Linked DNA regions of Homo sapiens. The protein of the gene in region 2 purifies or fractionates together with the protein of the main gene of each other region. This does not show direct contact. Each region holds a gene or a part of one and is shown on either strand. Other genes may lie near its edges. The genes, in order: METTL9, SLC39A10 and GALNT6.

Evidence for each region.
Region 1: the proteins of SLC39A10 (region 2) and METTL9 purify together in Homo sapiens (co-immunoprecipitation; 3 studies listed by BioGRID and IntAct, with this or other methods). This does not show direct contact.
Region 3: the proteins of SLC39A10 (region 2) and GALNT6 purify together in Homo sapiens (affinity purification with mass spectrometry; 3 studies listed by BioGRID and IntAct, with this or other methods). This does not show direct contact.

Annotation. Positions count from the first base shown.
Region 1 is NC_000016.10:21,602,498-21,606,245, forward strand, and holds part of METTL9 (protein-L-histidine N-pros-methyltransferase isoform 1 precursor), read left to right. Parts: intron 1-3,748. UniProt on the Homo sapiens protein: Protein-histidine N-methyltransferase that specifically catalyzes 1-methylhistidine (pros-methylhistidine) methylation of target proteins.
Region 2 is NC_000002.12:195,654,970-195,658,717, forward strand, and holds the start of SLC39A10 (zinc transporter ZIP10 precursor), read left to right. Parts: upstream 1-2,256; 5' UTR 2,257-2,288; coding exon of another isoform or gene 2,289-2,640; intron 2,641-2,696; exon of another isoform or gene 2,697-2,841; coding exon of another isoform or gene 2,842-3,010; intron 3,011-3,748. UniProt on the Homo sapiens protein: Zinc-influx transporter. When associated with SLC39A6, the heterodimer formed by SLC39A10 and SLC39A6 mediates cellular zinc uptake to trigger cells to undergo epithelial-to-mesenchymal transition (EMT).
Region 3 is NC_000012.12:51,356,768-51,360,515, reverse strand, and holds part of GALNT6 (polypeptide N-acetylgalactosaminyltransferase 6), read left to right. Parts: intron 1-1,183; coding exon 1,184-1,384; intron 1,385-2,254; coding exon 2,255-2,386; intron 2,387-3,065; coding exon 3,066-3,167; intron 3,168-3,748. UniProt on the Homo sapiens protein: Catalyzes the initial reaction in O-linked oligosaccharide biosynthesis, the transfer of an N-acetyl-D-galactosamine residue to a serine or threonine residue on the protein receptor. May participate in synthesis of oncofetal fibronectin.

The DNA.
Region 1 (3,748 bases), on a different chromosome or scaffold from region 2:
AGTGGCTGGGAGGCCAGACTGGTCTCACAGACTTATTTTACAGCCTATGAAATAAGAATAGTTTTATATTTTTAAATGGTTACCAAGAAAATATCAAAATAACATTTTGTAATACATGAAGTTTCATTTATGGAATTCAAATTTATTTCAGTGTCTACAAATAAAGTGTTTTTTTTTTGAGATGGAGTCTCGCTTCGTCACCCAGGCTGGAGCGCAGTGGCCCAATTTTGGTTCACTGCAACCTCTGCCTCCCAGGTTCAAGCAATTCTGATGTCTCAGCCTCCCGAGTAGCTGGGATTACAGGTGAACACCACCACGCCCAGATAATTTTTGTAGTTTTCAGTAGAGATGGGGTTTCACTATGTTGGTTAGGCTGGTCTCAAACTCCTGACCTCAAGTGATCCTTCTTCCTGGGCCTCCCAAAGTGCTGGGATTACAGGCGTGAGGTACTACACCCAGCCCACAAATAAAGTTTTATTGAAAGAGAACTACCACATTCATTTACCTGTGGTCTATGAGCTCCCTGGCTACAATAGCAGCATATTTGCTACTGTATGGCCTGCAAGCCTAAAACATTTACTACGTGGCTTCTTACAGAATAAAGACTTTTTCCAAGAGAAATTCCCAGCTTCCTTAACAAACAGCTTTTTTTTTTTTTTGGAGACAGGGTCTCACTGTGTCACCCAGGCTGGAGTGTAGTGGCACAATCTCAGCTCACTGCATCCTCGACCTCCTGGGTTCAAGCGGTTCTCATGCCTCAGCCTCTCCATAGCTGGGATTACAGGCACGTGCCAGCACACCTGGTTAATTTTTGTAGTTTTAGTAGAGACAGGGCTTCACCATGTTGGCCAGGCTGGTCTTGAACTCCTGGCCTCAAGTGATCTTCCCACATCGGCTTCCCAAAGTGCTGGAATTACAGGAGTGAGCCACTGCAACCAGCCTCCAACAGCATATTCTTAATCACAGGTTGCAGGGTGGGTAGATTGACTCACTGGGAAGAAATAGAGGCAGGCAGTGAGAAACTAGTAGATATTGTCACTTTGCAATGTTGGCAGACTCAGAATTTAAAAAGACAACAACAAAAAACTTAGGATCTATTCTTTTTGATGCATTGCACCTAGTGCTTAAAGTTAATGCAACTATTATGGAGCTACTGAAACTTTGAAAGGACCCTTAGGCCCCAGGTTCTTGGTAATAATAGCGGTTCAGTAGCTTCTCAATTGATGGAGTGAAAAAATTGTTATAGAACTCGCTGAACCAAACCACAACGATTTCTCCGGGTGACATACTGCAAGGTTTTTTAAAAGCACAGATAACATTCAATATCTGGAATTATTAAGTTGTAACTTAAAATTGCAAGTATGTGTATATTTTTGTGACTTATTTTTTCACTTTCTTATATAAGCTCAGAACTGCGCTATGCCACAAGTGATGAAGAATTCAAGAAAGAATTAAAATCCTTTTTTTTCCCCCAAATGAAAAAATACTTGGACAGCATAGCCAGAGCCAAACACTGTGCTAAAGGACAGAGTGTTTCCTGTCCCTTTACCCCTCACTTACCCTGTGGAGGCAGACTGGAGTCAGGCATGAGTTAACAATGCTTCAAGGATAGTCAGCCAGCTAAGCCGGACAGACACTGATGGATTGGCGTCCTTCTCTGAACTGCCTTCGAGAGTCTGGAGGCCTTTGCAGCTGAATACCAAAGAGACTTCAGAAAGGATTTCTTTGCTTCCTCATAATCTGTGTTGAAACCCCAAGTGTTTGCTTCAGTTTCACAGAACACTAGAATCTCTTTCTTGTGCTGGATATACCAGGAGTCTTTATGTTTCTCTTTGAAGGTGCCCTAGAAGACCCTAATAGCTTCCAGTAAAAAGCTCTGTTGTGTAGACCCTCTGAAGCTTTGTTAAAATTTTAGGATTATCCTGTCCTATGGGGAGTGAGTATTTAGTATTTGCAATGAGGATTGCCAGTAATTGGTTATTAAATCAAAGCTGAAGCCATTTAATCTGTTTTAATTGATTCCCCTCATGGATATGAGGGTGCCTGTCACTGTACACATTGAAATCTCACATAAAGAGGTTATTGGGTTGAGTTTATATTGTTTGTGGGAAAATGGTGAATGGTCTGAATATTTACGCCTATGCTGTGCTTAAATGCAAGGTGTGCATGGTGAAATGTCTGGACTGAGTTGACTGCATTGTAAAATCTTAGAATGTGAATTTTGAATCCTTAGCTGTCAAGCTCTGTTGATGGAGTTGGTCTGGCCAACTTAGAAAAGATTCTGTGTTCATAGATCCTGAGCAGTGGAGCTTTTCTGATTGTTTTTGGTAGCCCTGAATGCCTTGGGTCTTTGATTACCCATTTCTTTTGAGAATGGCTGGATGCCTAGACCTACAGTTTGGTTTTTAGGCATTCCCTTGAACTGTACTTCTCCTCTGACCAGCCCTTGCCTTGGAGAGAAAGGGGAAGGAAATATGAAGAGCTACTGGCCTTCTATTGTGTGCCAGGCACTTCAAATATATTATCCCCAGTAGTCCACATAGAACTCTTGGAGGTTGGTGGTATCATCCGCACTTTACATACAGAAAAGTGAGGGTGAGAGAGAGAAGAGACTTGCTCACCAGCACAGAGTTAATGGATGATAGAGTTGGGCTTTGCACCCAGCTTTGGTTTCAAGGCAACACATTTTCTGCTGCTTTATGATGCCCCTCCTGGTAAACCTTGTGTTGTCTGAGGGGTGGTAAAAATAGGCTTGCCTTCTTTTTTTTTTTTTTTTTTTTTTTTTTTTTTTTTTTTTTTGAGAAACAAGTTCTTACTCTGTCACCCAAGTTGGAATGCAGTGGCCTGATCATATCTCACTGCAGCCTCAAACTCCTGGCCTCAGTACATCCTCCTGCCTCGGCCTCCTGAGTAGCTTCTAAATCTTTTGTAGAGGCAGGGTCTTGCCATGTTGTTCAGGCTGGTCTCAAACTCCTGGCCTCAAGCAGTCCTCCTGCCTCAGTCTCCCAAAGTGCTGGGATTACAGGCGTGAGCCACTGCTCCTGGCCTAGGCTTGCCTTCTGAATAGGAAACTGCCCTCATTCTAGTGAGGCCTCTGTGTAGACACTGAAGTTAGGTAGCTGTGTGCACAATACTTGTTGAAGATTTTGTAGTTTGTGAATTAGATGAGAATAAGACAGCTGCTTGAAGTTCTGGCCTTTATCTGGTTTGTGCATGCTTTTTTTAAGGCTTAAAGTTGAAAAAAGATTCTTACATGTATTGTCATTTTTTCCTGACATCAGCCATTCTCTAATTTTCCATCACCAAGTGGGTGTTTAATTGTTCAATCCTGTTCTGACATTAACTACCTGGAGTTAGGGTCACGCTTTACAGAGTTAAGAGCTCAGTCCCACAAGACTGCCCTCACTTCAGAGGCCAGCTGGAAGTCCTGGGTTCCCAGGCTGCCAGTGCTTTTGTCCACCTTGAACAAATTTGGGAGTTCCCACAACTCTACCTTCACCCTACCCCACCCCACCCCCTAATTTCCTATAATAGAATGACTCATAGAACTTAGGAAAACACAGGTGCGGTGGCTCACGCCTGTAATCCCGGCACTATGGGAGGCTGAGGTGGGTGGATCACGAGGTCAGGAGATCAAGACCATCCCGGCTAACAGGGTGAAACCTGGTCTCTACTAAAAATACAAAAAAATTAGCTGGGCGTGGTGGCACGTGCCTGTAATCCCAGCTACTGGGGAGGCTGAGGCAGG
Region 2 (3,748 bases):
ATAAATGTTTGGGTGAGTTTAAAAAGTGTTAGGAGACACAGTCTCTATTTTCAAGTTGCTTACCACATAGTTTTCTATAGGGATGACATTTAAAATATGTAACAATTAGTAAAGAATAGGCACCAACCAAGTAGAATGGGAGTGACTAATAAGAGCTGGGTCCAAAGGGCTCTATCTTAGCCAGGTATTAACCCACTAGTTCCTAAAATGTGGAGGTCTGGGGAATCTTGAGAGGAAGGACTGGCACAGGGGTGAGAAGCATGGGGGGATACCACTCAGAGTTGCAGCTGTTAACCAACTTGCATTGAAGTATTTCAGTATTTGATTAGTTGGTTCAGCCGTACTTGTGTGTACCAGCTGAACATTAGCCTTGTATATCCATAACTAAAAAAGCAGTGTAGGTGCCCTAAAATGTAAGGACTGCAAGCGCTATATCTTATTGATATTTGAAAGAAAGGTTATGTATGTTTTAAGGGTGTTGATAATAATGTGTTCAATAAAATAAGTATGAGCCATAAAATATCAAGCTAATTTGGAAGCTTCTTATGCTTTGCACACAAAGGATGTACTATCATGATTTTATGAACTCTAAGGACTTTAGTTCTAGGATGAACCTTAGAATATATTTAAAACGATCCCCTTAATTTATCAATGAATCTGAGGACCACAGCTATTGTCTCACATTTAGTGGCAATGGTGAGACTTGAAACTAGGACTCAGGCTTAATCTCTTTTCTCCACACCTCAGGACTTCTCCCTTTGTAAGCAGGAGTGAGGTCCATGCTCTGGCTTTCCAAACAAGGAAAAGGGCATATGAGTAGTTCAGTGTTCTGAACTACGTATGGCAATCAGTAGGCATTTATCAAGCACCATTTTCGTTGTTTTGGATGTTTTTTGTAGAGATACAAAACAAAAAATAACCTTCTTTCATGAAGGTATAATATGCAGGTTAGCGGGACTACCTAGCCGTCCATACTGAATGGGTTTGGAAATCCCAACTCTTTTCTCTACCTGCTCTGTGATACCAGGCAAGTTAAAGTCTTGTGTGCCTCAGTTTCCTACCTCACCGTGTTATGGTGATTAAATTAATATATATGTGGAGTACTTGACACACAGTCAAGCCTGCGATTACTGCTGTTCATGGTTTTATTTTCTCTACTAGACACCAGTAAGGCACCCCCAGAACTCGCTGTGTTAAGTAGATTCTGGTTGGATATAGAAACACAGGCACCCCAGGCGGAATGCAGATACGCCTCAACATGTGGATTAAGTAAGAGCCAGGAAGCAGAGTAATGAAGCAAAAATAAGACGTCCAGAGTCACCTTTTAAGAAAATGTGGGTTGGTGGTTGCTTAAGAGGGGAGGAGACAATTTAGATGGGATGTATGGCGTGAGCAAAGGGCAAGAATGAGCACGGTGTAGGCACAAGTCCATGGAACTGCTTGGCTGGATCGGGATTTTTTTGTCATAGAGTGTTAAGAAATAGTCGATCAGTTGAGGAGTAGAGGAGTGAAGACCTTGGAAAGTTGCCAAAAGCCTCGAGAATTTCTCTACATGTGTGACATGTTCTCAGGACTCAACTTTTTCTTTTAGGTTTGGAAGACCCGCAGTAAGTGTGCTTTAGAATTAAATGGGTGGGAAGGGGAGCTAGGCAAAACACCTCGCACTTAGCACTAAATAAAGTTCGCTGTTGCCCTAAGAGACTGAAAAGGTTACTTTAACAAAGGGGGCGGGGTTAACTTAACGTAGATGTTTAACTCGTATACAGATGAACATTCCAGTTGATCACTCTGAAGCTTTTTGGCTAAAGCGTTTGGGTTTAGAGCTTCCATTACTCATTCGCCTTGCCCAAGGCCTCAGCAACCGACGTTCGAAAGCCAGGAGAAAAGGCGAATGATAAAGGGCGCTCCACGCATGCGTTAAGAAGCCGCCCCAACTCCCCCGCGGCGTTCTTTCTTGGAACAAAACTAGCGCGGAGCCACGGAACTCCGCAGTTTGCGTAGACTTGAATTTCCTATTCCTCGGACGATCCATGTGGAATCCGTGAGTAGTGCGACTCCTTTACGCAACTGGCGTTATCCGAAGTGAATAGCTAGGTGGCGCGTGTACGCCCATAGCGTAGCACCCATAGGCGGACGGGGTGCGGCTGCGCAGGGAGCTGAGTGGACCTTGTACGCCGCAAGCGTAGCAGGGTGTCAGACGCGCCGGTTTCTGCGACGCAGTTAGCGCAGTCTGCTTTGGTGAATACACGATTTGGTGCAGCCGGGGTTTGGTACCGAGCGGAGAGGAGATGCACACGGCACTCGAGTGTGAGGTAACTATAAAACCCCGATTTGTTTACATTCCCTCCCCCAGAACCGGCCCCGTGCGCGGCGGAGACTGCGAGTCCCGGGACGGCGTGGGGGTAGAAAGGGAGAACAGAACCGGGGAGTCGGGGCTGGTTCCCTCGGGGATGCGGGCGCTGGGGTTCCCGCAGCTGCTGCAGTCGGCGGCGGCCAGCCGAAGCAGAGCGCGTGGTGGGCAGAGTGTTGGGCGCCGCGGCTCCTCGTGTGCGGTCTGGGCTGCTGCGGGCCGCGGGATCGGGAGCCGGCGGCATCCACTTCGCGTGCGGAGCCTCGCGCCCCCCTCACCTTCCTGTGGAGGTTGGCGGAGCCTCGCGGGCCGCGCCCGGGGTGGGGGAGTGACCGCTGGGCGGGTGGCGGCGGTTAGGGGGCTGCGCGCCGGCCGCGGATGGCGTCGCAGGCGCGGGCGGGCGAGGCTTTGGGGATCTGTAGGCAGGTCTTCGGGGGCTTGGCGACCAGCGCCCCGGTTTTTTCTTCTCCAGTCCTTCTCTCTGGTCTGTAATGGGGCGAGGGGACCCCGGGATGGAGCCTCGGCACCGCTGTTCCGGACCGAGGCTAACGGACGGCGGCGCCTCTGCTCCTACTAGTTTTCTCCCGGACCAACCGAAAAGCCGAGGCGGAGCGCGGGGGTGTGAAGATCTCGGCCTGCTGGGGGTCCCTGGAGCTGAGGGTGAGGGTGGGGCCGGGTCGGTGGGACAGGCCGGGTGGGCCGGAGGTGGCGCGGCCGCACGGCTTTGTTCCGGAAAGCCCTTAGGTGGAGAGCGATGTGGGGCGCGGCAGGGGGATCGCGTAGAGGAACCTTCGCGCACCGCCTCTCCGGGTCTGGGAATCTGCTGAACTCCTTGCCTCTCCTGGGGTCCCTCGAACGCCCCAGCTAAGAAGGGCGGGGGCCTTGCCAGGGCGCGAGCAACATGACGTTCAAGGTCTTCCTGTGGCTTCTGTAAAGAAATGTTCACGTGGGAGCCTGTCCACATGGGCTGTACTAAGGATCTGGCACGAGGAAGAAATATCACTGCAGAACCTGAAGCCCTCCGTTGGAAGGGTCGTTCACTCGAGTACCTATTCTAAGTAACAGTGACACAAAACACATGTTAGAAAAAAACAAAAAGTATGGTAGGTTATACTGTTTTTTAAAAGAAACTTTTATTTATGCCTTTTGCTGTTAAGTCCTCTAATTTTACATTGGAACTGAGTCATTCTTGGAGCAAAACTAGAATAGGTTTGTATTTGTTTTCTTTTTGGATGTGTATCTAAATTGTACATAATTAAGAAAAAGCAAGTAATGGAAAAGCTGGAGATGTAGAACTTAGTTCCTTCTAACTTAGTATGCAATTGAAAGCCTCAAGTCAAGACTCCTGTGTATTGTTTTGTATTAGGACTCTATTGTACAAATATTTGAGTACCTTAA
Region 3 (3,748 bases), on a different chromosome or scaffold from region 2:
AAACTACTGGGCACAACTTCTCAGAGGCAAGGAATAATAGGGGTAATGAGGACTGGACATCTGGTGACTGGGGACTCTTTTGCGATGTCTGTGGGAAAGGGTTAGGGTGAAGATAGAAACAGGTTAGTATGTTCACAACTAGGGCTAGAAAAAAAAAACAGATGAGTAACCAGTCATCATCCTTTTTCTGGAAAAATCAGGCTCCCCTTCCCAGTTCAAAGGACACATGCCCTGGTAACCTTTGAAGTTTCCCTACCTATGTACAATAAGCCCTTCATAACAGTCAGAGAAGATGGTGGCCCCAACTCTGGTGGACCCCAGAACTCTGAGAGATTCCAGGAATTAGGCAAATCAGGATTAGGTCAGGAAGCAAGGATTGCCTCTCCATGAAACCTACACAAATCTCCATGCCATGGAAAAGTAATTAGTAAGTAGATGAGCTCATTTATGAAGTCACCTCTCACGGTGCCTGATGCATATTAAGCACGTAATTGATGCCTGCTGTTACTATAACGATTATGTATTTCTGTTGCTGCCACACTAAAATGAATAACAACATACTTTCCCACCTAAAACCCAAAAGAAGAAACCAGTGGGAGGGATGTCTTCAGCCAGCCCACCAGCATAGAAAAGGGTCACCTGCCAGTCACCCCAACTCCCAGCGGCCCAATCCTAGGCTCCTCCATGAGCCTCTGACCTCTGTTCACCTTCCTAGGCAGCCAGTGTGCTAAGGGCCCAAGTGACTACCACTAGCCACCTAGCAGCCAACTATCCTTGCTATTAATTAACAGACTGATGCTCTGGTTTTTATCACCTGAGGGAGCTGATAAACTCACATTTCCAGGTCAAAAAGCCAAGTGATCAGAGCTCAGAGTAGGTATACAGGCACAGGTAACAAAAATTAACCAGCAGGCTTTTCCCTAAAGTGGGCCCTGGTAAACACAGGACCCTGCAGTCTCCCTGTGCTTAAGTCAGAGTGAACCAACATCAGAAAGCCTGGGATCGTGTAGTCATGGCCTAGGAAGAAGCCTGGTCGGTATCCTTTTTCCCAGGGAGAGAGAGCAGCATTTGCCCAAGTCCTTGGACCTGGGGTCTGGTGCTCTGGGAATAGAATAGAGCTGCTTATGGGGAGACTGTCTCACCTAGCCCACTGAAGGCCTCATCCTGTCTCCTCTTACATCAGGTGTGGCAGTGTGGGGGCCAGCTGGAGATCATCCCCTGCTCTGTCGTAGGCCATGTGTTCCGGACCAAGAGCCCCCACACCTTCCCCAAGGGCACTAGTGTCATTGCTCGCAATCAAGTGCGCCTGGCAGAGGTCTGGATGGACAGCTACAAGAAGATTTTCTATAGGAGAAATCTGCAGGCAGCAAAGATGGCCCAAGAGGTGAGAGGAAATGGTTCTCGGAGAGGTTTAGATGAAGAGAAGTACGGCCCCCAGACCCTGTTCATGGGCCTAATGGCTGGGACCCACCTCATCTCTACCATCTGGCGCCTCCCTTCACCCTCAGGGACCTGTGAGCTAGAGCCCAGGAGAAGGCCACAAGGCACATAGGTTTCAAAAGCTAGAGAATGTTGTCCCTACGCATAGAGTCTCTGCATCCCTTTGGAGGGGAAGGGAGGGAAAGGAGATTTGGAGGAAAAGCCTCTTACGGAGGCTTTGGAGGCTTTGGAGGAATGGCTCTGAGAGCCTCGGCACTGGGGAGTGGGACATAATTGTCTGGGGAGTCACAGGAGATGGACCGATAAGCAGGGGACTCCAAAGCTAAGGCGGGGTTTTTGGGATTGGATGTGAGGGCTGGGCCAGTATCTTTAACAGGTCCTGAGTGGGAATGAACATGAGAGACAGTAGCCCCAGGCGCTCCATGCTATCTGCACTACTTCAGCCCAGACAGGAAGGTCAAAGACTGGTGGAACTGGCTGGGTGTGGTGGCTCACGCCTGTAATCCCAGCACTTAGGGAGGCCGAGGCGGGCAGATCACCTAAGGTGAGGGGTTTGAGACCAGCCTGGCCAACATGGTGAAACCTCATCTCTACTAAAAATACAAAAATTAATTGGGCGTGGTGGTGCGCGACTGTAGTCCCAGCTACTCAGGAGGCTGAGGCAGGTGAATCGCTTGAACCCAGGAGGGGAAGGTTGCAGTGAGCCGAGATTGCACCACTGCACTCCAGCCTGGGCAACAGAGTGAGACTCCCTCTTAAAAAAAAAAAAAAAAACTGGTGGAACTGATCCTTAGGGGGCTGGCTTGATTGACAGAAATCCTTCGGTGACATTTCGGAACGACTGCAGCTGAGGGAACAACTGCACTGTCACAACTTTTCCTGGTACCTGCACAATGTCTACCCAGAGATGTTTGTTCCTGACCTGACGCCCACCTTCTATGGTGCCGTAAGTCTTGAGAACCAACCTGCCTGCCCATCACCACAGCACCCCTTGGAGAAGTTCAAGACCACTGACCCCACAGATGGATGACAAACAAGAATTGAGTTTTGCCCTGCACCCTCCTTTATCCAGGAGGAGGACTGAGAGGCCACGTTGGGGCTTCTAGAGATAGCAAAAAACCTTATAAAGGGCAAAACAACCCACAAGCAGTGGTCCTGAAACATTAGCATGCATCAGAATCACCAGGAAGGCACGGTAAAACGCTAGGGCCCATCCCCAGAGTTCCTGATTCAGAAGGACTCAGGGGAGGTCTGAAAACTTGCATTTCTCACGAGTCTCCAGGTGATGCTGATGGTCCAGGGCTCACATTTGAGAACCACTGCTTATAAGGAAACTCCCACGTGCTGAGGGCTTCTTCCAGGGACCTGGCATCCTGGGAGGTTCCCTGCCTGCCCCACAGAGGGGTTCAGTCCTGCCCTTTCCAGCCTCTGGGGCTCTGCAGCTCACTTTGCTGTTAGCTCCAGGCATGTGGGTTAACGCACAGAGGAGAGAAATGACGGGGGAAATCCAGCCATGCAAATTTGTTGCAGTTGACTGGAATTTGTTCCAGTGGGGCCCCATACCACACATGAGGAACCTCCTGACTGTGCCATCCTGCTTCCCCTCTCTGCTCACCCTTCTGCAGATCAAGAACCTCGGCACCAACCAATGCCTGGATGTGGGTGAGAACAACCGCGGGGGGAAGCCCCTCATCATGTACTCCTGCCACGGCCTTGGCGGCAACCAGGTATGCAGCCCACCCATCTCCGGAGCATCTCCTCTCCTCACCGGCTCCTTTTCTCTACCCTAAAGAGTCCTTTCCTGAGGACTGGGAGGGAGGAGATACCATCCCTGCCCTCAGGAAGCTTCCAGTCGGAGGAGAAGGCATAACACACACAAGGTCTGAATAAGGGACATCCGGAGAGAACGAGGCATCGGTGCTGGGTGTGAGAAGGGGATGGGAGGGAGGGTTGTTCATCAGAGGAGGCTTGAGGAGGCTAGCTGCTGGGGGATATTTAGGGGTGAGGGTGGAAAATTTTCCAGCACATCCCATCACCTGCACTCAACTTCTATCTTCAATGCATCCTCTGCCCAGAAGCTACCACTCTGATCCTACCACCTTCCAGTGACCCCAAAACTAGGTGCCCAGCACTAGTAAGTGAGAGGCACTGAAAACAGAGCCAGAGTGGGGAAAGGAGTGGTGTGGGTCACTGAACAAGCCCGCTGGCATATGTAGGTGAAGACAGTCATTCTACAGCAGTTTCCTGTACCACTGGCCTGCAAGATGATTTCCAGTGGTGCACTGGAGAACATTTTTTATTTTAATAG